2 separate regions of the Homo sapiens genome follow, and region 1 is linked to region 2. Evidence: fine-mapped QTL for protein levels in blood plasma. Region 2 holds a variant in brackets. A gene starts in the other region. All regions are shown on their reverse strands.

Region 1 (11,167 bases), not on the chromosome of region 2:
TGAGAATCTAAGCCAGAATTCGGAACCTCGGTAGCTATGAGATCTTGAGCAAGCGTCTTTACCTCTGTGAGCCTCAGGTTTCTCAGCCAAAAAGTGGGAAATTATAACAATACTTTGACGGCCCCACTTAGGAAAAAAAACAGTCCAGGTTTGGAGTTAAATTTTGGGGTCTGACTGGCTGTGGGGTTTGGGGCCAGTGATTTGACATCTCTGAGCAGATTTCAGATCCTGAATCTGTAAAATGGGTTGTTGTGGGGATTTAGTGAGGTGACTGAGCTGGCAGCACTTTGGAAAATGTGAGGCTTTACAAATGAAGCTGGTTTTTAGCACTTCCCTGGAATGGGGGCTCTGAGATGGGGAGGGAAATGGATACTGGAAACCGGCACCCCCCTCAACATTTCCCCTGAACCCAGGCACATGAGTTCTCATTCTGCATCCTATGCACCCACCAAATGGGTTTCTCCAAGCCTGGCACCCCACTCCTTTCCACCTTGCCTGAGGACCTGAGGCCCCTTCCCTCTTCCCACCTTGTTCTAGTTGCAAGCTGCAGAGGATGGCCTGAGTTTCCATTCTTCAGCCTGGAGGCTCTGGCTGTAGCCTCAGTCTTCCAGCTGCAGCCTCAATCTTCTGCCCCAAGAGAATCCGTTGGATGATTTGGGTTGATCTTTGGGAGGCAGGAGAGCTAGTTCCAAGGCCTGTGACCAAAACCTTTCAGTCACTCTCGAGTCCCAGAACCCCATCTTTCTTGAACCAAGCCTGCTCTGGTGCCCAAAGGGAAGGGGTGTCAGTGATGGGGGCCCACAGGAGACTTTTACTGTGGTCCAGTTTTATCTGTTATGCTGCTGGTCTGGCACCCACAGAACTGCCCTGTCCCCCTCCCGTCTCTGGCCTCAGTACTGGCGTTGCCAGTATGAGGAGACAGTGAGAGGAGGGGTGAGGGCTTCGGAGTGAGAGAGGCTGACAGGAGGCGGGGACTCTGGGGGGCTGAGGACTATAAAGCGGCCCAGCCGAGGGCAGGGGCCCATCCGGCCTGAGGCAGGTGCTCGCTTGGTCTAGTGCCCATTTACTCTGGACTCCGGGTAAGTGGGCTCAGCCTGCCTGGGGCTCTGGGGGCCTCCCCCAGGCTGGGGCCTGGGATGGAGAGGAGGTGGTGCTTTGCAGGGCCAGGGGCCTTGGGAGGCCTAAGGTCCTGCTTGGGTCTTGCTTTCTGCATCTGGACAGACCTGTCACGCTAGAAGAGCCGTCTGCTGACTGCACGTGTGTGTGCACACTCGTGTGCATGGCTGTGAACTGGAATGTGTGACTGTGACCTTGTGAGTGACTGGGGTCCCTGTGTGAGTGCCTTTGCTGGTCTGTGCAGGACGACATGGACAGTAGCGTCTTCTCCAGGACCGATATCTGTGTCTCTATCGCAGGGTGGAGGGCCAGACCCACAAGGCCATGGATTTCTGTCCTTGGCTTCCCGAGTTCATTCTGTGTCCCCCACCCTGTGGGTGACCTGGCATGCCCTTATTCCCACTAGCTGCTGCCTCCTGGGAGCCATGAGGCCCTGGATGTCATGAGTCCCGTGTCTCCAGGACTCACATCCCCATTTTCTCTGCTATACTTTTCTAACTTGCGAGGCCCTGGCTTGCTGGGCTGCTCACAGGACAGGCTGTCCGTGCCTTCAGAGCAGTGTCTAGGAGGTGGAGTGGCCAGCTTGGAGTGGCCCTTTGCTCTGCCCCCTTGTCCCCAGGCTTGGAGAAATGGATGATGGGCTAAGGGGCTGGATAGTTGGGCCCTGCTTCCTGGGCACGGGAAAATCTGCAGCCCGGGCTCTCCACCTCCCCTCTGCTTGCTCCTCAGATGGCTGCCGCACGCCTCTGCCTCTCCCTGCTGCTCCTGTCCACCTGCGTGGCTCTGTTACTACAGCCACTGCTGGGTGCCCAGGGAGCCCCACTGGAGCCAGTGTACCCAGGGGACAATGCCACACCAGAGCAGATGGCCCAGTATGCAGCTGATCTCCGTAGATACATCAACATGCTGACCAGGCCTAGGTGTGTGCCACAGTTGGGGAGAGAGATCCCAGCCCCTGGGACCCTGGGCCCACTCCACATTCCTGGCCACACCCTATCCCCAGCCCCAGCCCCAGCCCCTTCCAGGCCTGCTCTTGGGAAAACAGGGCATCTGTGCTCAACAGGCCTAGACCAATGTGCCCTGGGCAAGATGGTGCCTACAGGCAGATATGAAACAGGTGGGCTGGCACCTGGGCACAGTGCTTGCCCCTGCTGCCTCTTCCCTCCCAGGTATGGGAAAAGACACAAAGAGGACACGCTGGCCTTCTCGGAGTGGGGGTCCCCGCATGCTGCTGTCCCCAGGTGAGTTTGACTCCCTGCCCTGTCTGTCCAGCTCCCTGGAGCTGAAATGGGGGTGGTGGGACTGAATCAGGGCTTGGAAAGGTGTAGTGGGGGGTGGAAGAGGGAGAACAGGAGCCCAGGGCCAGCCTGAGGCCTCCTGAGGGCACGAGGCCTACCCCCTACACTGCCATGTTCTGCCCTGTCCTCACAGGGAGCTCAGCCCGCTGGACTTATAATGCCACCTTCTGTCTCCTACGACTCCATGAGCAGCGCCAGCCCAGCTCTCCCCTCTGCACCCTTGGCTCTGGCCAAAGCTTGCTCCCTGCTCCCACACAGGCTCAATAAAGCAAGTCAAAGCCACAGCCTGTCCTGTGTCTCTGTGGACCCCTGGTGGGGGCAGCAGGAAGTGCCAAATGCATGGGAGAGAAAGGGGAGGGCAGGGCAGGGCAGAGGAAAAGGGGATCATCCAGAACGTTGGCGGGGGTCATCAGAGTCACTCAACTCATCCTCTCCCCTTCGCAGAGGGAAAAGTGGTGGCCAGAGGAAGGCAGGGACTCCTCTGAGCAGATGGTCCTTCAGCAAGTCTGTGAAGTGGCAGTCTTGAATCTTCCCAGTTCAGTACCCATAGACCTTCCCGACACAGCCTGATGACAACCCTTCCCCAAGTGCACCCCTCACCAGTGCCTTACTGCAGCCTAGGCAGCAGAAGCACCAAAATTTATACGAAAGCACCCTTGGCATGGGGGCAGGGGCACAGCCCAGCCTGGAAGAACGATTCTGGTGCTATGGCAGTCATGGCTGCATCCAGGGGCCTGAGCTGCCGTCCAGAAATTTGGAGAGAATGGGCTGCCCTGAGAGGTAGTGAAGTCCTGGGCACAGGAGGTATTCAAGCTGCTGTGGAAGGGGAGGAGGCTAGATTAGCTGAGAGTTCCAGCCACCATGAGTTGAATCTGTAGATTGTACACTCCAGCCCTGGGAGGACAAGGACCTGGATCCTGCCCCAGGGAGGACTTCCCAGATTCCCAGAGAACCCATCTTTTCCTGGCCCTTCTCAGGCACCCTGAATAGGTGGGGACAGTGCGCGTGTGCATGCGTGTGTACGCGCATGTGTAAAGGGGAGAAGTGAGGGAACTAGAATGTTTCTGGTTCCTAGAAAGGCTTCTCCTGCCTCCCCCACATGCTTGGTCTCAAGGGATGGGGTTATGGGTTTGGAGGATGAGGGGTCCACTTTCCTGGGCTCAGCACCTTGCACAGAAATGGAAATGACACACAATTGTGTTTCCCCTCAAGTCCTACTCCATCTGGTGTGTGCAAATGACCTGGAAGTAGAAACAGGTCCTAAAAGGCAAAGAGCTTCTAGAGGATGCAGCTGCTTGGCTCAGATTGATTTTTTGTTTGTTTTTGGAGACAGGATCTTGCTCTGTCACCCAGGCTGGAGTACAGTGGCATGATCACAGCTCACCATAGCTTTGACCTCCTGGGCTCAAGCGATCCTCCTGCCTCAGCCTCCCAAACAGCTGGAACTACAGGCACATGCCACCACACCCAGCAAATTTTTTTATTTTTTAGAGACAGGGTCTTGCTATGTTGCCCAGCATGGTCTTAAACTCCTGGGCTCCAGCGATCTGCTCACCTCGGCCTCCCAAAATGCTGGGATTACAGGTGTGAGCCACTGTGCCCAGCCTCAGGTTGATTCTTAAATCCAAAGATGTCTGGATAGAGAGATGGTTTCGCAAAAGAACGGTTTGAGTCTGGGAGAGGGAGCCTGAAGTCCCAGCATTTTCTCTGGCAGCTTAAGGGGATGCGCGGTGAATGGGGAGAGGAGTCTGGGCTGTTTGGTAGAAACTTGAGCCAGGTGGGAGTTGGGGTGTGTCTAGCTGAAGCCCCTTCTTTGAGGTTTCTTCTCTCACCTCTGCTCTCCCTCTGGGTTAGAGCCCCCCACACTGGTGCTGTCTGTGCAGGACTACAGGGGCAATAAGTGTCTTCTCCAGGACCCGTATCTGTGTCTCTACCACGGGGTGGAGGGCCAGACCCACAAGGCCATGTGTGGGTGGAGTGGGGGAAGGTGGATGGGTTGCCAGGGGAGGCAGGGGAGGACCCCCAACAGCTGAGGTCTTTTTCTCTCACAGCAGAAACTACAGGGTCCCACTTCCCGTTCCATGGACTGGTCCCTCCCTGCCCGCAGGCCCACAGAAGTCACTGAAGCAACAAAAATTTGTCTTTATTGTTTTCACTGAGGGGATGAGGAGGGGTCGAGGCCCCTCTCAATACAAAGGGGTTGGTGGGCAGAGAGGCGTCTGGAGGCCAAGGCCCAGCCTGGAGAAAGAAGCCCCCCCCACAGGGGTGCTGTGTCTCCCCGCATGCCCGCCCCCAGGAACTTCCTCTCGCTAGCACCCAAGCTGCCCCCAGCCCCGAGGCCCCTGGCTCGGTGCCCAGCATCCAGGCTGTCCTACCTGGGGCCCCGGGAGGAGGTCGGTGGTCGGGGTTCCGAGGTGTTCAGCCACTGGGGGTTCGTGGTGGTCCATGGTGGGGGTTTCGTGGCTTTTGATGGGGAGGTGTCCGTGGCGTTCGCAGTTTTCTTGTGGTTTTTAGATTTCTTCGGGCTGGGAACAAGTCTTTGCAGTCATGAGGCCGCTCCCCGAGCCCAGCTCAGGCCGCGATGTGCGTGGGGGTGCCTGGTGGCGTCCGTGTCCCCCCCCCGCGCCCCCCCCACCCCCCGCTTTCCTCCCTCCCTCCCTCCCTTCCTCACACCCTCCGCCGGCCCACCTGCTGTTGAAGAGCTTCCCCAAGTACTTCTTGATGGAGCCTAAGTTCAGCCAACTGGCGGCCCTGGGCTGCGGCACTTGCAGCTCCTCGCCGAGGGCGCCCTCGGGCTGCATCAGCAGCGACACGAGGCCCGCTATGGCCAGAGCGAATGCGCAGCGCAGAGCAGGCGTCTGGAGGGGGCGGGGCAGACAGAGCCGCGGGAGGTCACGTGATGCCGGGGCTGTGGTCAGCGCGGCACCCGGACCGGAGCTTGCAGGTGTTCCGCGCGGTGGGCAGGCTGGGGTGCAGGGGCGCTCAGACCGAGGGTCGTGTCTATTTCTGGGACACACACCAGAGCACGGACGCCTTAAGGGACATCCTGGTGCTCGGAGGAATGGTACACACCTGGACATGCCCGGTGATGCAGGCAGAGCATCGAGGCGCGGTGGCTCACGCCTGTAATCCCAGCACTTTGGGAAGCCGAGGCGGGCGGATAACCTGAGGTCAGGCGTTCAAGATCAGCCTGGCCAACATGGCGAAACCCCGTCTCTACTAAAAATACAAAAATTAGCCGGGCGTGGTGGTGGGCGCCTGTAATCCCAGCTACTCTGGGGGCTGAGGCAGGATAATTGCTGGAACCCGGGAGGTGGAGGTTTTAGTGAGCCGAGATTGCGCCACTGTACTCCACCCTGCCCAACAGAGCCAGACTTCGTCTCAAAAAAAGAAAAAAAAAAAAAAGAAAAAGAAAAAAAAAAAAAAAAAAACGAACGAGGAGACACACCCTAAGGTGGACGCATGAGGACGGCATAAAGCCATTGGTCAGCTCCCTAACCTCACTGCCCTCTCTCCCGCAAACTCCTTGCTTATCCCCCTCCTTTCTCCCTGCTGTTCCCGCAAAATGACGGTCACTCTGTTCTCTGCCTGGAAGACTCTTCCTCCAGACATCCTCATGGCCAGCTCTGTCTCCCCTTGTAAGCATTAGCTCAAAATCCACCTTTTAAATGGATCCTACCCTGACACCCCTATTTATAATTGCAACCTGGCCGGGCGCGGTGGCTCACGCCTGTAATCCCAGCACTTTGGGAGGCCGAGGTGGGAGGACTGCTTGAGCCCATGAGTTCAAGACTAGCTTGGGCAAAAGACAGAGAGCCCCGTCTCTACGATTTAAAAAAATAAATAAATAAAATAATATTGCAACCAAACCCCTCATCTTGCTCTTTTTCTTGCTCTATTTTTGCCCTATTTTTTCTTTTCTTTCTTTTTATTTTATTTTATTGTTTTAAGGCAAGGCCTTCTTTTGCCTTCCAGGCTGGAATGTAGTGTCGGGATCATAGCTCACTACAGCCTCAAACTCCTGGGCTCAGGCCATCCTTTTGCTTCAGCCTCCCAAGTAGCTAGGTCTACAGGTGCATACAATCATGCCCAACTAAATTTTAATTTTTTGTAGAGATGGAGTCTTGCTATGTAGCCCAGGCTGGTCTCAAACTCCTGGCCTCATGAGATCCTCCCGCCTCACCTCCCAAAGTTCTGAGATTACAGGTATGAGCCGCCACACCTGGCCTGCACTTTCTAACTTACTATATTCTATACTTATATTTGTTGTCTGAGTCCCTTCCCAGCGGCATATCCTCCCTCAATGTAAGCATCATTAATTACAGCTGGGCTCTTCGCCTATTTTGTCTATTGATGGATCACAAGCACCTAGAATGGTGCCTGGCACTTAGCAGATACTCAGTAATACATATTAAATGAATGACTAACAGTTACACACAGGAAAGCCAGCCTGAGGATTCACACACCCAATGCACAGAGAATTTTGTGCCTGCAACACACAATGATTCACAGACTATGATGCCCGTAAACATGATGCACACTCCCAGAGCTCCTAGGCCCCTCAACCCTCTTTTAACCAGGAACTCTCCTCATCCCCACCACCCCAAGCAGGAATAAGAAGCCCTAGTAGCTATCCTGGCCATCAGAATGGCAGACGAGGCTGCCCTGGCCTAACTCCTTCATGCCCTTAGTGGGCCTGAGGAGGGGCCCTTGGTGCCAGCCCCCATCCCCAAGCTCTTAGAGAATACAGCTGATGGGGGCCCAGACTTGGCCACCAGACATCACCATGGTGCTGGGCAGGTGCAGAGGAGCTCAGCAGAGTGTCTCTGGCCAGGACCTGAGGCCCTTTATATTCCTAAGCATCCCTGCCCCCTTTCCCTCTGAGGCTCCACTCCCAGCATAGCCTTCTTTTCCTCCCTGTGTCGTGACCTGAAAGTCCGGAACGGAGAGAAGGTGGGGGTGGAAGCACATGGGCTACCAGCTGTTCTGACCAGGTCACAGTCCCTGCCGGGGGCCCAGAAGTGTGGGTAGCAGAGGCAGGGAGGCGTGGGGTGTCGGGTAACTTTTTGCTCCAAGTACACAGATCCTAGGGAGAAACTGGCTCTGGGCTTGAGAGGGGGCTGTGCTTTTCCCAGGGGTTACTGTCAGGGTTTGGAAGGGGGTTATGCTGAGACCAGATGCCCCTCCCCATCTGGCTAGATCCAAGGTGCCTCTGCCTCCTTCTCCTGCAGGGTTACTTTGGGATCCCAGCACCCCTATTCCCTCCCCCTAGGCCCGCTGCCATGGGGAGGGGGTGGAGTTGCAGTTTCTGGTTTCAGGATTGCAGGCCCCGCTGCACAACCTGGAGATTTTCTCAGCCTGCCTGGCCATTTTGGAGCCCCTGAGGCATGACCTGCTGAGCCTTCTGGAGGGTGGTGGGTCTTGGCTGCTTGGATGATGGACTTAGGCCTTGGCTGCCTCAGGCCACAGAGCCTCAGCTGTGTGGCCTGTCAGGTCCCCTCTACCTCCTCAATATTGCTGCTTTTATGGGGCAAGGTTGTAAAATGTGCACCAATTCTTCATGCCCACACCAACCCCAGAAGGGGCACAGTAGGAAGAGCAGGGGCTTCTGGGTAGGAATCCTGACTTCACTCCCTCCTGGCTGTGTGACCTTGATTAGGGGACATTATCTCCCCTGAGCCTCCACATCCTCATCTGTGAAATGGAGCTGGTTAAATCCTGGCATAGGACTGTCGTGAAGATGGAGTTGGGTGATGTAACTCAGCCTCTGGGCAGCTCCTGGCACATGCTAGGTGATTAACAGGCGTGAGAGCCCCTCCACTCATAGAAGAACCCCCCCCAACCTTTTTTTTTTTGAGATGGAGTCTCACCCTATCGCTCATACTGGAGTGCAGTGGCATGATCTCGGCTCACTGCAGCCTCTGCCACCCAGGTTCAAGCGATTCTCCTGCCTCGGCCTCCTGAGTAGCTGGGATTACAAGTGCTTGCCACCGTGCCGTACTAATTTTTGTATTTTTAGTAGAGATGGGGTTTCACCATCTTGGCCAGGCTGGTCTTGAACTCCTGACCTCGTGATCCACCCACCTTGGCCTCCCAAAGTGCTGGGATTACAGGCGTGAGCCACCACACCCGGCCTTAAAAGAACCCCTTTCTCCCATCTCCACTTCTCCCGAAAGTGTCTCATCTTCTGGCCTCTTCTCCTTATTAAAACTTGCCCTCGGCCAGGCATGGTGGCTCATGCCTGTAATCCCAGCACTCTGGGAGGCTGAGGTGAGAGGATCACTTGAACCCAAGAGTTTGAGAGTAGACTGGGCAACATACTGAGACCTTGTCTCTACAAAAAAAATTTTAAAAGCCAGGTGTGGTGGCATGTGCCTGTGGTCCCAGGTACTGGGGAGGCTGAGGTGGGAGGATTGCATGAGCCTGGGAAATTGAGGCTGCAGTGAGCCAGGATCACACCACTGCACTCCAGCCTGGGTGACAGAGCAAGACCCTGTCTCAAAACAACAACAAACAAACATACAAACCAACCCTGCTCTCAGTGGGGGTGAGAAATTCAATGTCAATGTCAATATCACTGAAGTTTATGGGATGGCTCAGTAGCCAAGTGAGACCAGGACCGCATTTCTACGCAGCCAAGAATCTCTAGAAAAAGAAATGAAATTCCCATGATAAATTTCCATAGTACAGGTGGGAGGAGATATCTGGGGACCAGTGTACCCTAAATACCAGCAAACAGGCTATTCCTTATCCCCATTTGTCACAGCCCAGTGTTGAAGAGCTCAAGAGCTCAAACCATGTGTCCCTTTGCAGCCTTGGCTGCCCTTACAAACCCAGGCTTTTCTGCAGGCACTGAAGGCTCTCAGCCCCTTGCTCTTCCAGACTCTCTTACTCATTCCAGGAACTGTAGAAGGGTATGGGGAGGGAGGAAAGGGGGAAGAGAGGAAAGGAAGAAGCTCAGACGCTGCCTGCTGCTCTCTGAGGGCAGGAGGCGGTAGTGGTAGCCCTGCAATGGGCAGGATGAGGGAATGTGGCTTGAGGACACAACTCCGGGTGGGTCTCCCTGTCAACTGCCCCTTAAACTCTGACTGCGAGTTCCCACTTAAATGGAACTTCCAAATTCACTGTGGAGGACATGCCCAAATTCCCAGAGGGCAGCAGGCCAGGGGCTATGGCCTCCACTTCTCAGAGAAGAACACTGAGATGCAAAGAGAAGCTACGCAGATACCTGGTGCCACCACAGCTGGGGCTAAACCCGCCATTTTGACTCCAAGTCAGTGTGTGACCATTTGGATCGGCCTATTTCTGAGGCCGCTGAGATAAGCGCCGGGGGCTTCCTGTGATGCATGATGGTTCTCAAATATCATTCTCTGCTACCCACTGTGGAATAGACCCAATGATAGAGTGACCTTGAGTCTCCTGGCTGACTTGCCCCAGACTGACCATCCCACCCACTCCGGGACCACCGCTACTCCTTTCTGCTGGGTGTGGCCCAAAGCTGTCCTCCCACCGGCTCACTACTTCCTACCTGCCCTCAGTGCATCTGGGTGCTAGTGATGTCCTGAGAGAGGCCATCAGCTTGACTGCTGACAGTGGAGAGCAGCTGGCCTAGGAGAGGCCTGGCTGCCCTGTACAGCATCACTGCATTTTTTAAAAAAATGTCCCATCAAAGCCCTTTCCCCTTGGTGAGGGAGTCACATGGTGACCTGTGTTCTCCCTTCTAGACTGCATGCTTCCCAAGGGCAGCTGGGGTCTTGTTCAGCTCTGAACCTCCAGCATCTAGCACAGTGCCTGGCTTACTGTGGGCCTCCATGGATGCTTAGTGGGTGGGTGGAGGTGGGAGGGAGGCAGGAAGAAGGGAGGGAGGTAGAATGGGAGTGGAAGGGAGGGAGGGACTGATGGATCAATGGATGTGATGAACAAAGGGACAGCTAAAGGAGTGAACAAATGCATGGCCTGGCTCATGTCATGGGTCCTGGAACCCGCTGCTGCCTGTCCTCATGTCTTCATGTGCCTTGTTTCGCATGTGTGTGTGAAGAGGCAGAGGAAGGTAACTAGGGGACCCCCCTCTCATCTGTGGGCTCCTCCAGGACCGGACTTGTGTCTCCTCTTCTCTTGGATCTTCCTTGCTCCTCTGCTCCCCGAAACCTGAGGCTGGGCCACACCTGGTCTTCAACTGCCCCTCATTAATCCCGGGACTCTTCTCATATGGAACCGTGCTAGGGTAGCAAGGGCAGTGTGTTCTGGGCACAGGGTCCAGGGGAGAGGAAAAGGCAGCCTCTCCCAGCCTCCTCCTCCTCCCAGAAGCCTTCTTCCCCCGCGCCCCCAGCCCTCCTCCTCCCATAGCCCTCCTCCCCACCTCACTTGAGCAGGCCCCTCCTACCCTCCAAGCTGTAGTTCCAGCGCTCATGCCGGAACTGGAACTGGCACTCCAGGCCGAGGTGCATGGCGTCCCACAGGGTCTCAGCCAGGCTGGGCTCCCTCCCGCAGAGCTGCTTCTGCTGCCGGGACAACTTCAGCAGGTCACACTGCTTCAGGTGGGCCCTGCCCTGTGCTGGGGCCACCGCAGTGCCCAGTCCTGGGAAGGGCATCAGGACCTCCCACCTGGTCAGGCTGGAGACGGCGAGAGGACAGAGACGGGTGAGCCTTGGGGATGGTGGTGAGGGGCAGGTGAAGGGAAGGGAGCCTCCTTGGGTGCCCCCAGTGTGGGTGGAATATACATCATTTCAGGGCTCACCCCAAAAGAAGTAACC
Region 2 (11,477 bases):
AAACTTTGCACCCATTAACCATGACGTCCCCTGCGCCTGCACCAAGCCCCTGGTCGTCTCCATTTACGAATCTGCCTATTCCAGATATGTTTTGTTTTGTTTTTCCTTTTTTTTTTTTTTTTTTTGAGACAGAATCTCGTTCTGTTGCCCAGGCTGGAGTGCAGTGACGCGATCTCGGCTCACTGCAACCTCCGCCTCCTGGGTTCACGCGATTCTCCTGCCTCAGCCTCCCGAGTAGCTGGGATTACAGGCACACACCACCATGCTTGGCTAATTTTTTGTGTATTTTTAGTAGAGACGGGGTTTCATTATGCTGGCCAGACTGGTCTTGAACTCCTGACCTCGTGATCCGCCCGCCTCAGCCTCCCAAAGTGCTGGGATTACAGGCGTGAGCCACCGCGCCTGGCCTGTTTTGTTTTTTTCTTTTTTTGAGACATGGTCTGACTCTATCGCCCAGGCTGGAGTACAGTGATGCGATGACGACTCACTGCAGCCTCAACCTCCCAGGCTCAAGCAATCCTCCTGCCTCAGCCTCCCGATTAGCTGGGACTACAGATGCATGCCACCATGCCCGGCTAATTTTTTTGCATTTTTTGTAGAGATGGGGTTTTGCTATGTTGCCCAGGCTGGTCTCAAACGCCTAAGCTCAAGCGATCCGCCCGCCTTGGCCTCCCAAAGTGCTGGGACTGCAGGCGTGAGCCACTGTGCCTGGCCAGTTTTTGGTTCTTTTTTTAACTCCCCACAGTATCCAGTGTAGAGATGGCACTGTGCCAGCCCTCCTTCCAAAGAGGCCCCCTGGCCAGAGATTTCACTTTGAAAATAAAGCCAATGCATCAATGCATCAAAACACAAGCAAGTCCTTTGATACATTTAAAGCCAGAAACACAGCCAGGCACGGTGGATCACACCGGTAATCCCAGAACTTTGGAAGGCCAAGGCGGGTGGATCACCTAAAGTCAGGAGTTCAAGACCAGCTTGGCTAACATGGTGAAACCCCATCTCTACTGAAAATACAGAAAATTAGCCAGGCATGGTGGTGCATGCCTGTAGTCCCAGCTACTTGGGAGGCTGAGGCAGGAGAATCGCTTGAACCTGGGAGGCGGAGGTTGCAGTGAGCCAAGATTGCGCCATTGCACTCCAGCCTGGGCAACAAGAGCGAAACTCGGTCTCAACAAACAAATAAATAAAAACCAGAAACACGGGCCAATTTCATCTCGCAGAAATCTTTCCCTTTGTTTTCACAGGTAAAGAAGGCACAGACACCCTCACCTCCTGCACTCTAGGCAGCTTCCAGAATTGACTAAAAATATCCCGAGAGCTTTCCAGGAAGCCGCAGGGAGCCCTCGACCTGTTTGAATCTCTGGCTGCCGGTGGATTGGCGGGTCACTCCCATGTCCCAGCTCCCGCCTGCAGGTGCCTCCAGAGATGCTGCCCTTCCGTGGCACCCCCAGGGCCCCACACCTCAAGATTTCCACGGCCTTCTCCCTTCTATCTTTGTACAACAAAGTAATTTGCTTTTAATGACCGCCGGTGTTTTCCTTCCCAGTTCTATTTGAGCAGATAATGTATCTGAGGCCTCCGCAACAGGGTTAAACCACTGTGACCCTCATAATCAGAGCACAGAAACAAATTCTATTTACTCATAAATGTGGCTGTGTCTCCAGTGTGCAGCTGCCTCCTAATCACAGATGCTGTGATAATATTTTGCTTTTATCAGACCTCTCACTCACGGGTGACAAAGTGCTTTATTATCCCATTAGGCACGGAGCGCCTCAGCTTGGCAAGGTGTTCCCACTGCGACTTCAATGGCACTTTGGGCTCCAGGCCCTGGGAAGCTCTCCGGGGTGGCAGGCTTGAGGGCACAGAGCTCCTGCCATCCGTGTGCAGAGTCGCTTCCCTCAAAGCCCCCAAGGCCGTAGGAACCAGAGGACATCGATTTGAGGGAAGCAGGGAAGGAAGGGAGCAGCTCCCAGGCGCTCCCCCGTGTCCTGGCCCGACTCCCGGACCTCCTTGAGTCCTGACCACGTGCACAGCCTGCAGCCGCCAGGGCCCAGCTCCCGCCATACCCGGACCCCCTGCTTTGGCCGTGGAATCTGCTTGGGCAGACAGAGCTCATCCGCCGCTGCCTCTCTCCTGACTCCTCAGCCCCAGTGGCTGTTTCTGCTGCTCCAGGTGCTTCCCAAGCACTCAGCTAGGAAGCTAGCGGGTCCTGGAGGCTGCAGCACCCGCCTGTCTCCGCGTGAAGATGGGGGTCCCTGCAGGTCTGGGGGCAGAACAGCTGCTCCAGCTGCCCCTAGGGAGCTGCGGCAACTCAGATTCGTCCAGGCCCTGACTCGGGGCCTGCAGAGGGGAACCCTGGAGTGAAAGACGGCAAAGTGAAAATCCCGCTCTCTCCTGGTGCCTTGCCCGTGATGCCTCAGAGTTCTGAGGAAGACCAGACCCATCCAGAACCTTCTGGGGGAACAGCCCTCTGCCCGTCCGTGTGAGCTATATTTATTTATTTGTTTATTTATTTATTTATTTAGACAGAGTCTCACTCTGTTGCCCAGGCTGGAGTGCAGTGGGGCATGATCTCGGCTCACTGCAGCATCCGCCTCCCAGATTCAAGCGATTCTCCTGCCTCAGCCTCCCGAGTAGCTGGGATTACAGGCACCTGCCACCACGCCCAGCTAATTTTTGTATTTTTAGTAGAGACGGGATTTCACCATGTTGGCCAGGCTGGTCTCGAACTCCTGACCTCAAGTTATCCGCCTGCCTTGGCCTCCCAAAGTGTTGGGATTATAGGCGTGAGCCACCGCACCCAGCCCTCATGTGAACTATTTTAACAGTGTCAACTGTTAAAATAAAAGGAAAAAAGGAACACTCATTCCTTCACACACACAGGGGTGGAGGCACAGTTCCGGAAGTGCATCTTGTGTGATATACCCGCTGTCTCTGAGCTCTGTGTTGAGTGCTCTGTGGGTGCGGCAGGACACCTGGGCCAGTGCAGCACGTCCCCGCAAGCTCCCCAGCCTACACTCCGCTGCCTAGGTGTGAGGCTCGAACACCTCCAAAACTTGATTTATCAGTGTTATTTCCACCATTGCTAAAGTAGGAAACCAGACTCCGTCGGCCCTGTTAAGTCTGATTCAGAAAACAGAGGGCCTTTAAAACCCTTTGTCCCTTGAAGTCAGAAAGGGCGAGAATACTGGCGATCTGAGGGTTGCTCCAGCTGGCTTGGGACCGGACTGACTTGCATTTCCTTCACTAATCAGAATTTTGAAGGCAAGGATAAAATAAATCTCAGATAATCACCTTGCATTTCTGATGAGTTAAATGAGTGTGTTTTACGCCCCGGTTGTATGAGCTTGCTTTTCCACACGCGGTGAGTGCCGGACAAAGACTTCCCGGGAGGTCTAGGTTTGTTGTGCTTTGTTTTTGCATCCTGTCTGATAATTAGGCCTTTGCACACATCTGTTTGGGATTGAGTCTTCCTAGGAAATCAGGGATTTGGCCAAGGCTGGGCAAAATTAAGCAATAATAATAGTAGTAATAGTAATAGAAACAGTAACAGCCTCTGTTTGATGGAGGGTGGCTGTCAGGTGCCTGCCGTGCGGTGCTGGGCTCCGAGATGTTAGGCTGGTCCTCAGAGCCTTGGGTCTTGTCTTGTACTTTGCAAGCTTTGCTTGACTTTCCATTTCAATTTTTTTTTTTTTTTTTTTTAGAATAAAGACACAGGGTCTCACTCTGTTGCCCAGACAGGAATGCAGTCATGTGATCATAGCTCCCTTGCAGCCTCGAACTCCTGGGCTCCAGGGATCCTCCATCTCAGCCTCCTGAGCCTCTGGGACCACAGTTGCATGCCACCATGTCTGGCTAATATTTTTAATTTTTGTGTAGATGCGGGGCGGGTCTCACTTTGCTGCCCAGGCTGATCTCAATCTCCTAGTTTTAAGCACTCCTCCCACCCCAGCCTCCCAAAGTGCTGGGATTCCAGGCATGAGCCACCGTGCCCGGCCAATAAAAAAGAAGCTTGCTTTACTTTCAATGAGGATAGTTCTCCTGGAGACAGCACAGATGTCCTGGATCATCCATCAGCTTTTAAGAATTACAAAATATGTAATCCCAGCACTTTGGGAGGCCGAGACAGGTGGATCACGAGGTCAAGAGATCGAGACCATCCTGGCCAACATGGTGAAACCCCCATCTCTACTAAAAATACAAAAATTAGCTGGGTGTGGTGGTGCGTGCCCGTTAGTCCCAGCTACTCAGGAGGCTGAGGCAGGAGGAGAATCACTTGAACCCAGGAGGCAGAGGTTGCAGTGAGCTGAGATCGCTCCACTGAACTCCAGCCTGGCGACAGAGCAAGACTCTGTCTCAAAAAAAAAAAAAAGAATGACAAAATCGATATTAATGTGGATGTTTGCAACAATATTCACGGCAGAATGGGGAATGAAAAGAAGAATGGATTCAGAGACCCTCCTATGTGCACTTCCATGGGAAGAGACCCAGTCTGCTCAATAAACAGGCACCCGCTCTGTCTCGATGAGAACCAACCCAATGATAGACACAGTCCTACGTCCTTTCAGGGACACAAAACCCGTCATACGTCATAAAATCCCAGGATCGGAGAGCTAGAAGTGCACTTATTCTTATCAATGTGAGGTTGCTGGCAAACCGAGCGGGACTCCTGCCCTCTAACCAAGTTGAAAATATGGGAGAAAAGGAAAAGCTGATGACAGAGACAGGCGCTGTGACTTGGTCGCGGCACCAGCCGGACCCTGTTGGTGTGACCCTGAGGCCCTGAGGCGTCACCAGTGCAGTGTCTCCTATCTCAGCACTTGTCCACAGATTTCACTAGAGCCCGCGACAGCTAGCCGGCCGCCTACCCCGTGCCTCTCCATCAGGAAGAAAGATCAGCGGAGAGAAGAACTGAGAATCATTGTCAGGGGGCCCACCCTGAGGCCAAGAGCTTGAGGCTGTGATTCTGTGGGCTCACAGGCCTGCCTGAACAGTTAGAGAGAAAGGAAATGGTAAGTTGACATGATGGGCCACAGCAGCTCAGAGTGGGTGGTGCCCTGGCTGACGGTCAGGAGGAGGCCAGACAGGTCCGGTGAGCATGGACCCTTCCAGCCCTGTTGACTGACAGGCTGACAGAGGGGCCGTCGCCTAGCTGCCAGGGGACTGCACAAGTGATGCTTAACCTTTCTACTTGCTTTTTAACTAGCGCAGGGACAAGGTAACAAAATAGGACAGGTGGTGTCATAAGAAATGACCCCAGACCTGGCTATGGGGCCACAGCGTAGCTGGAGTGGAGCTTCAAGGTTGTGCAGTTGGCGTTAGAGGCCTGCAAGCCACACCTGGGCCTTCCCGCTGCCTGCCACCCCCCAACAGGCACACAGTGCCACCAGTCCGGGAGGACGAGGGCCCAGGAAGCCTGAGGAGCCCCGCTCACTGGGAAGCCCAGGCCAGCACGGTCTCCCCGCAGGCACTGCCCAGGCCGCGTCCTCTGCACTCGCCACAGTGGACGAGGAGCCCTCGAGAGTCACAGATGAGGTCGGAGCATCGCTTTTCACCAGGCTCGCGGACCCAGGCCCTCCGGGACTACTTCAGTGGCCTAAAGATGAGCAGAGTGATCTCTGCGGGGGAGAGAGGGAGAGGGGCACAGGAAGTCTTATTTTTAATGAAGAATGACGGGACTGGAAGCTGGTCGAGAGGTGCTGTGGTGCCCTGGAGAACGCGCTCATTCCCAGGCTGCAGGCTGAGGCTACCAAGTGAAGCGTGGCCATGTCTGTACTCCAACAATCCCATCAGAACATGCATGGGTATAAATGGCTCCCTACGTAACTGTATATACACGTGTACTGAAAAACCACAGGAAAAGCAAACATGGCCAAATGTTAACTGGCAAACATAATAATAATGTAAGTGGAAGAATTTGCCCTCTTTCTTTGGAAACACTGACAAAATGAAATGAATAATCCATTCTCAATGTTTTTCTTCTTTTTTTGAGACAGAGTTTCGCTCTTGTTGCCCAGACTGAAGTGCAGTAGCGCAACCTTGGCTCACTGCAACCTCCGCCTCCCAGGTTCAAACGATTCTCCTGTCTCAGCCTCCCAAGTAGCTGGGATTACAGGTGTGAGCCACTGCGCCCAGCCCATTCTCAGTGATTTTCTATAGAAAATACCTTAAAAGCTGGTCTTGATCGTTTTTCCTTCCACCAGAGCTGAAGCTGCCCCGGCGTGGGCTTGAGACTTGGCTCTGCTTGGCGAGGCCCAGGCTCATCAGGCCTTACATCAGTGTGAGCCCCGGGCGGGAGCAGCCCTGGTGGCACTGAGTGCACGAGGGATTGACGGCTCCTTCCCCAGAGCAGGAGGGAGGGAAACACCGCGGTGGCCATGGTCAGTCGTGCTCGGAAAGGTCAGCCTTTGCTGGGGAGAGTGAGGAGGGGGCCACGGAAGTCCTGGGGCCAAGCATCGTCATCTGGACATGTCAAGGTCAGCACTGCTTAGCTCTGGCACCCGAGCCCGCCTGGCCTGTGGGACACACAGGGGCCATTGTTTCCCCAAACACACGGCCCCCGAACTCTGAACACCCCCTGCATCCTTAGGACATGTTAAACTGGCCCTGTTCCCTTTCATCATTTTACCACGCAAACATCATTTTTC[A/G]TCATTGTCCAGCTCTACTCAAGATAAGTGTCACCTTCTGGTGAACTCGGCCCCTGTGCAGCCACACCCCCCATCGGCTTCATCAGTGCAGCCTGTGATGCAACAGTTAAGGCTGAGAACAAGAAAAGCTCCCCATTCCCTGGCCAGTGTTACTGTCACTAGAAAAATCCAAGTTTTATAGCACTTTGATAACACTCTCTACACACAAGCATCCACACAGACATCCGGAGTCCTCCACGCTCAGGGAGGTACAGCGCGGCCCTCCAGAAGCCCACACACTTCAGTTACTGTTCAGTCTCTACGTGATGCTGGCTCCGTGCTGTAGAACTGCCTTCCCTGGGAGGTGTCTGAGTTGACTCTAGATGCTTCCACGGCTGGTCTGTGGCTGCTTTCACAGGGCCTCTCTCCACCCGCTGGACTCACCCGCTGCTCTGTTCTGGGGCCCCTTCCTCTCATACCTCGTTCTCCTCAAGGGACTGCACATTTTGTTGGATCCCTAGGCTGCCACCCAGAGCTGGTGTCTACATCCTTCAGCCCTGACTTCCACGGGTGCCACTAGCCCCAGAAAACGCAACGCGCCTCAGGTTGAAATCCTCCTCCTCTGAAATCTATGAGCCTCCGCCCCCTTCTCAGAGACGTTCCAAGCCTCCACTGCCCCCTCCACCCTCTCGTTTAAGGGCACCACATTCTGGCCCGGCGCGGTGGCTCACCCCTGTAATCCCAGCACTTTGGGAGGCCGAGGTGGGTGGATCACTTGAGGCCAGGAGTTCGAGACCAGCCTGGCCAACATGGTGAAACCCCGTCTCTACTAAAAATACAAAAATTAGCCGGGTGTGGTGGCGAGTGCCTGTAATCCCAGCTACTCGGGAGGCTGAGGCAGGAGAATTGCTTGAACCTGGGAGGCGGAGGTGGCAGTGAGCTGAGATCGCACCACTGCATTCTAGCCTGGGCCACATAAAAATAAATAAATAAATAAAATAATATACAAAAATAAAATAAAATAATAATACAAAATAATAATAAAATAAAATTTCCACTCTTATTTGTGGAAAAGCAAGCTCATACAACCAGGGCATAAAACACACTCATTTAACTCATCAGAAATGCAAGGTGATTATTTGAGATTTATCTTTGCCCTCAAACTTCTGATTAGTGAAGGAAATGCAAGTCAATCCAGTCCCAATAAAATAATAAAATAAAATAATAATAACATTCTGATGAGCATTCATTAGAAGCGTCTCTTGAAATCTCTATTCTCAGGCTCCCACCTTGGCCTGGGCGCTTCCCTCCTGGCCTGGGAGGTCCAAGAGCCACCGAACTGACCTCTTGTCACCAACATTCCCACGTGCCGGACCAGCCGCCATCTCTGTCCAGCAATATTTTGACAACACAGTTTTGATTATGTAACCTCTTTGATGGTTTCCTTCTGTTGAGAAGAGGACTTCACTCCTCACTCCTTCACGGTCAGGTCTCAAGTTCATCTCCTGCCTCTGAGGTGCTTTATCGTGAGGCCACCGGAGGCGCCATCCCAGGCGATCCGCACACAGAGGTCAGCTCTGCCCAGCGTGTGCCCTCAGCTCCTCCCGGAAGAGCCAGTCCCAATGACCCTGCCTCTGGAAAAGCCTTTCCCTATTGCCCTGTCCCTGCTCCAGCAGGAGGAGCTTGACTTCTGCACACTTGTACTGTGGGGCTTCTCAACGCTTCAAGCAGGGCGTCTACACCCCTGCTCCGGAGCTTCACTGCATGGTGGCCCTGAGTGGGTTCCCAGTCAAATACATCAATCCCCACTCTTATTTGGGTCCTCCTTAAAAGAGGCCTTGAGCCGATGTAACTCAGAGGCCCCACCCACACATTCACTGCACAACGTTTTTTTCTTTTTCTTTTCTTTTCTTTTTTTTTTTTTGAGACAGAGTCTCGCTCTGTCACCCAGGCTGGAGTGCAGTGGTGCAATCTTGGCTCACTGCAACCTCCGCCTCCCGGGTTCAAGTGATTCTCCTGCTTCAGCCTCCCGAATAGCTGGGACCACAGGCAGGTGCCACCACACCCAGCTAATTTTCTGTATTTTCAGTGGAGACGGGGTTTCACCGTGTTAGCCAGGATGATCTCGATCTCCTGACCTCGTGGTCCACCTGCCTTGGCCTTGCAAAGTGCTGGGATTACAGGTGTGAGTCACTGCACCTGGCCTGTACAACATTTATTACAGTCAAAAGCGAATTACAGAAAGGGCGAGACTCCAGAGACAGATGTCAGCTGAATCCTAACACGCAGCTAACATTGCAAGCTCAACCCACAGCAACCTTTTTGCCATGAAAGCTCTCATTTTAATGTTGTTCCTCTTAACAGGACTTGACAATAAAGATGGGGCAACCAGAGGAAAAGTGAAGCAAAAGAAAGTTGGCTGGGTGAGGTGGCTCATGCCTGTAATCCCAGCACTTTGGGAGGCTGAGGAGGCAGATCACCTGAGGTCAGGAGTTTGAGACCAGCCCAGGCAACATGGTGAAACCCCATCTCTACTAAAAATATAAAAATTAACTGAGTGATAGTGGTGGACACCTGTAATCCCAGCTACTCAGGAGGCTCAGACAGGAGAATCACTTGAACCCCGGAGGCAGAGGTTGTGGTGAGCCAAGATTGCTCCATTGCACTCCAGCCTGGGCGACAGAGAGAGACTCTGTCTCAAAAAAAAAAAAAAAAGAAAAAAAAAATCATTCCAGAAGCTCCCTGATGAACTAGAATATCAACCAGGGCACTGCATAACCCCAGTGTCATGTTCTGGTCACCTGTCGGCATTCAGTGCAGAAGGCAGAGCCACTCTCGTTATTGCCGCAGAGGCATCTGGCAGGGGAGTGAGACGTGATGAGAGACGCTGGGTCTCCAGGGCAACTTGCAGGACAATTTGCTGGACGGGATGCTCCAGCCGCTGGGCCTGGACTGGCTGGGTGGGAGAATCTGCCCCTCAAGTGAGGCCCCGCCCCCAGTGCCTCTCCAGGCAGCTGGTGCAGCCTGGGCCTGCCACAGAGGAGCTCTGCATGCCCACAACTGTGGGCCAGGCATGGAGGCGGTGGGCACGTCTGCCTCACCTTCCAGATGTGCGTATGCAGCTAACGTGCAGCCCTCACCACATCTGGAGTTCTCCAGTGCCGGGGTCTGAGCACGTCGTGGTCTTCTCCAGCAGCAGATGCAGGAGCAGCAGGGATGTGGGAAGGAGGCGCCGCACCCAGGGGCCCCGTCTGCTGTTCCCACACCAGGGCCCTGCCGTCGTGCAGATGCAGCCTCTCTGCTCTGCCCACCCAGCTGCCACCGATGGACCTGTGCCCAGCCTTCTCCTGGCCCTCCGCCCCAGGGCTCCTGCTCACAGCCTTCACTCTATGCCTCCCTACCTGGGACCCGGCTGCACAGCCGCTTCCTACACCCCTACCCAGAGGGGGCGTCTGACCAGCTTTATGAGACCCTGGCCCCTCTGGGTGCCACTGTTGAATGGAGCTCCTCGGCCACGACTGGCCGGCTGCCTGGAACAGGGTGCTTTGGGGCCCTTCCCCTGTCCCTGGTCCAGTCAGTGCAGCCAGGCCAGAGAACACTAAGCCTGCTGCCTGTGTGAGCAGAGCCAGCGCTGGGGACACCGAGGCTTCCTGGGGTCAGCAGGGTCCCTGACAGGCACTGCCACAGTGGGGAGCATGGGACTGGGGAGAGGTGTGAGTATCCCAGACCTCAGGTACACCAGGCTCACTGTCATGGGATCCCAAGAGAACGATGAACATTAAAACCAGTATATTAACAAGAAGAATATATAAATATAATACAAAAACCAGTATAACTGCTATTCTTTAGGACTGAGGTTCTCAGAGCGCTTCACCTCATTTAATCTCCGCAAAGCCCCTCTGAAATGGTAGACAGAAGTGGTAAACAGCTGGGCCGGGCCATGGGAAACGCCCGTTCTGGACAGCGAGGTCCCCATTAGCCAGCCTTGATCAGCAGCACCTGACACAGAAGGGCCCCGGTTGTTACTCACGTGTAATTGAAACCATAACAAGCCACGCAGCCACTTCTATTGGTAATAAACCACATTCCAAAAGCTGTGGCACAACAGAGGCCCTCATCTGGTTTATTGTGAAACAGGAATATTTGGAATTTAAAAGCCTAGTTGTTCTGGAACGTGTCAGAAGAAGGAAACATTTTCACAGGCAGCACGCAGTAAAACATCATAAATATAACAGATTGTTAAAGATCATTTACAAATTTATGAATAAGGCTAGAGGGAGGACCCAAATGAAATACAAACAGAAACAAACAACGCTCTCTGCGTTTCAGAGAAGGGGAAAAATGAAACTTGGAACAGTCTGTGCTTTCTCTCCACGTCCAATGCCAGGACAGAAGGAGCTACAAACACATCTTGAAGTAATCATGCTTGTTTTTCCAAGTTGTATGGTTTTGGCAATTCTAAAACTACTTTCTGCATATTAGAGGACTGAGCAAATAAGTAAATGTGTTTATCATGCTGAAAGACAGGTTTCTTACAGCTGGGAAAGGCTAGCCACAGCCCTAAATGCTGCGTGAGAATGGGAGTGGTCCGTGACAATTTGGTTTTCAATACAGAGAAGCATGTGTGCAGATGTATTATATATGATACACACACAGTTTATATGTGCAGATATATATGATACACACACAGTTTATATGTGCGGATATATATGATACACACAGTTTATATGTGCAGATGTATTATATATGATACACACAGTTTATATGTGTAGATATATGATACACACACAGTTTATATGTGTGGATATATATGATACACACATTTATATGTGCAGATGTATTATATATGAT

Alleles and levels. Alleles are on the strand shown, and positions count from the first base shown. The strength of an association depends on the size of the effect and on how common the allele is.
With allele A in place of G in region 2, the plasma level of the protein whose gene starts at base 1,024 in region 1 is higher (weak association).

The links. PIP is the chance, under the fine-mapping model, that this variant and not a neighbour inherited with it causes the effect. The UK Biobank Pharma Proteomics Project read protein levels with antibody pairs (Olink). The fine-mapping took linkage between variants from a reference panel, not from the people measured, so its PIPs are less certain.
Region 1: it holds the start of PPY, and the variant in region 2 is fine-mapped to the plasma level of the PPY protein (UK Biobank, PIP above 0.99).

Annotation. Positions count from the first base shown.
Region 1 is chr17:43,932,333-43,943,499 of GRCh38, reverse strand. PPY (pancreatic polypeptide) reads left to right here and starts at 1,024. Exons shown (of 4, transcript NM_002722.5): 1 at 1,024-1,079; 2 at 1,846-2,036; 3 at 2,286-2,357; 4 at 2,548-2,696. The coding sequence starts at 1,846. The coding sequence ends at 2,572. LINC01976 (long intergenic non-protein coding RNA 1976) reads right to left here and starts at 5,239. Exons shown (of 2, transcript NR_136406.1): 1 at 5,103-5,239; 2 at 4,538-4,939. It also overlaps LOC102724183. RefSeq lists an enhancer at 4,953-5,453.
Region 2 is chr7:156,983,949-156,995,425 of GRCh38, reverse strand. No RefSeq gene overlaps it. Among named protein-coding and RNA genes, the nearest start is that of MNX1-AS2, 17 kb to the left of the region's middle. The variant A/G (reference allele first, on the strand shown) is at 6,648.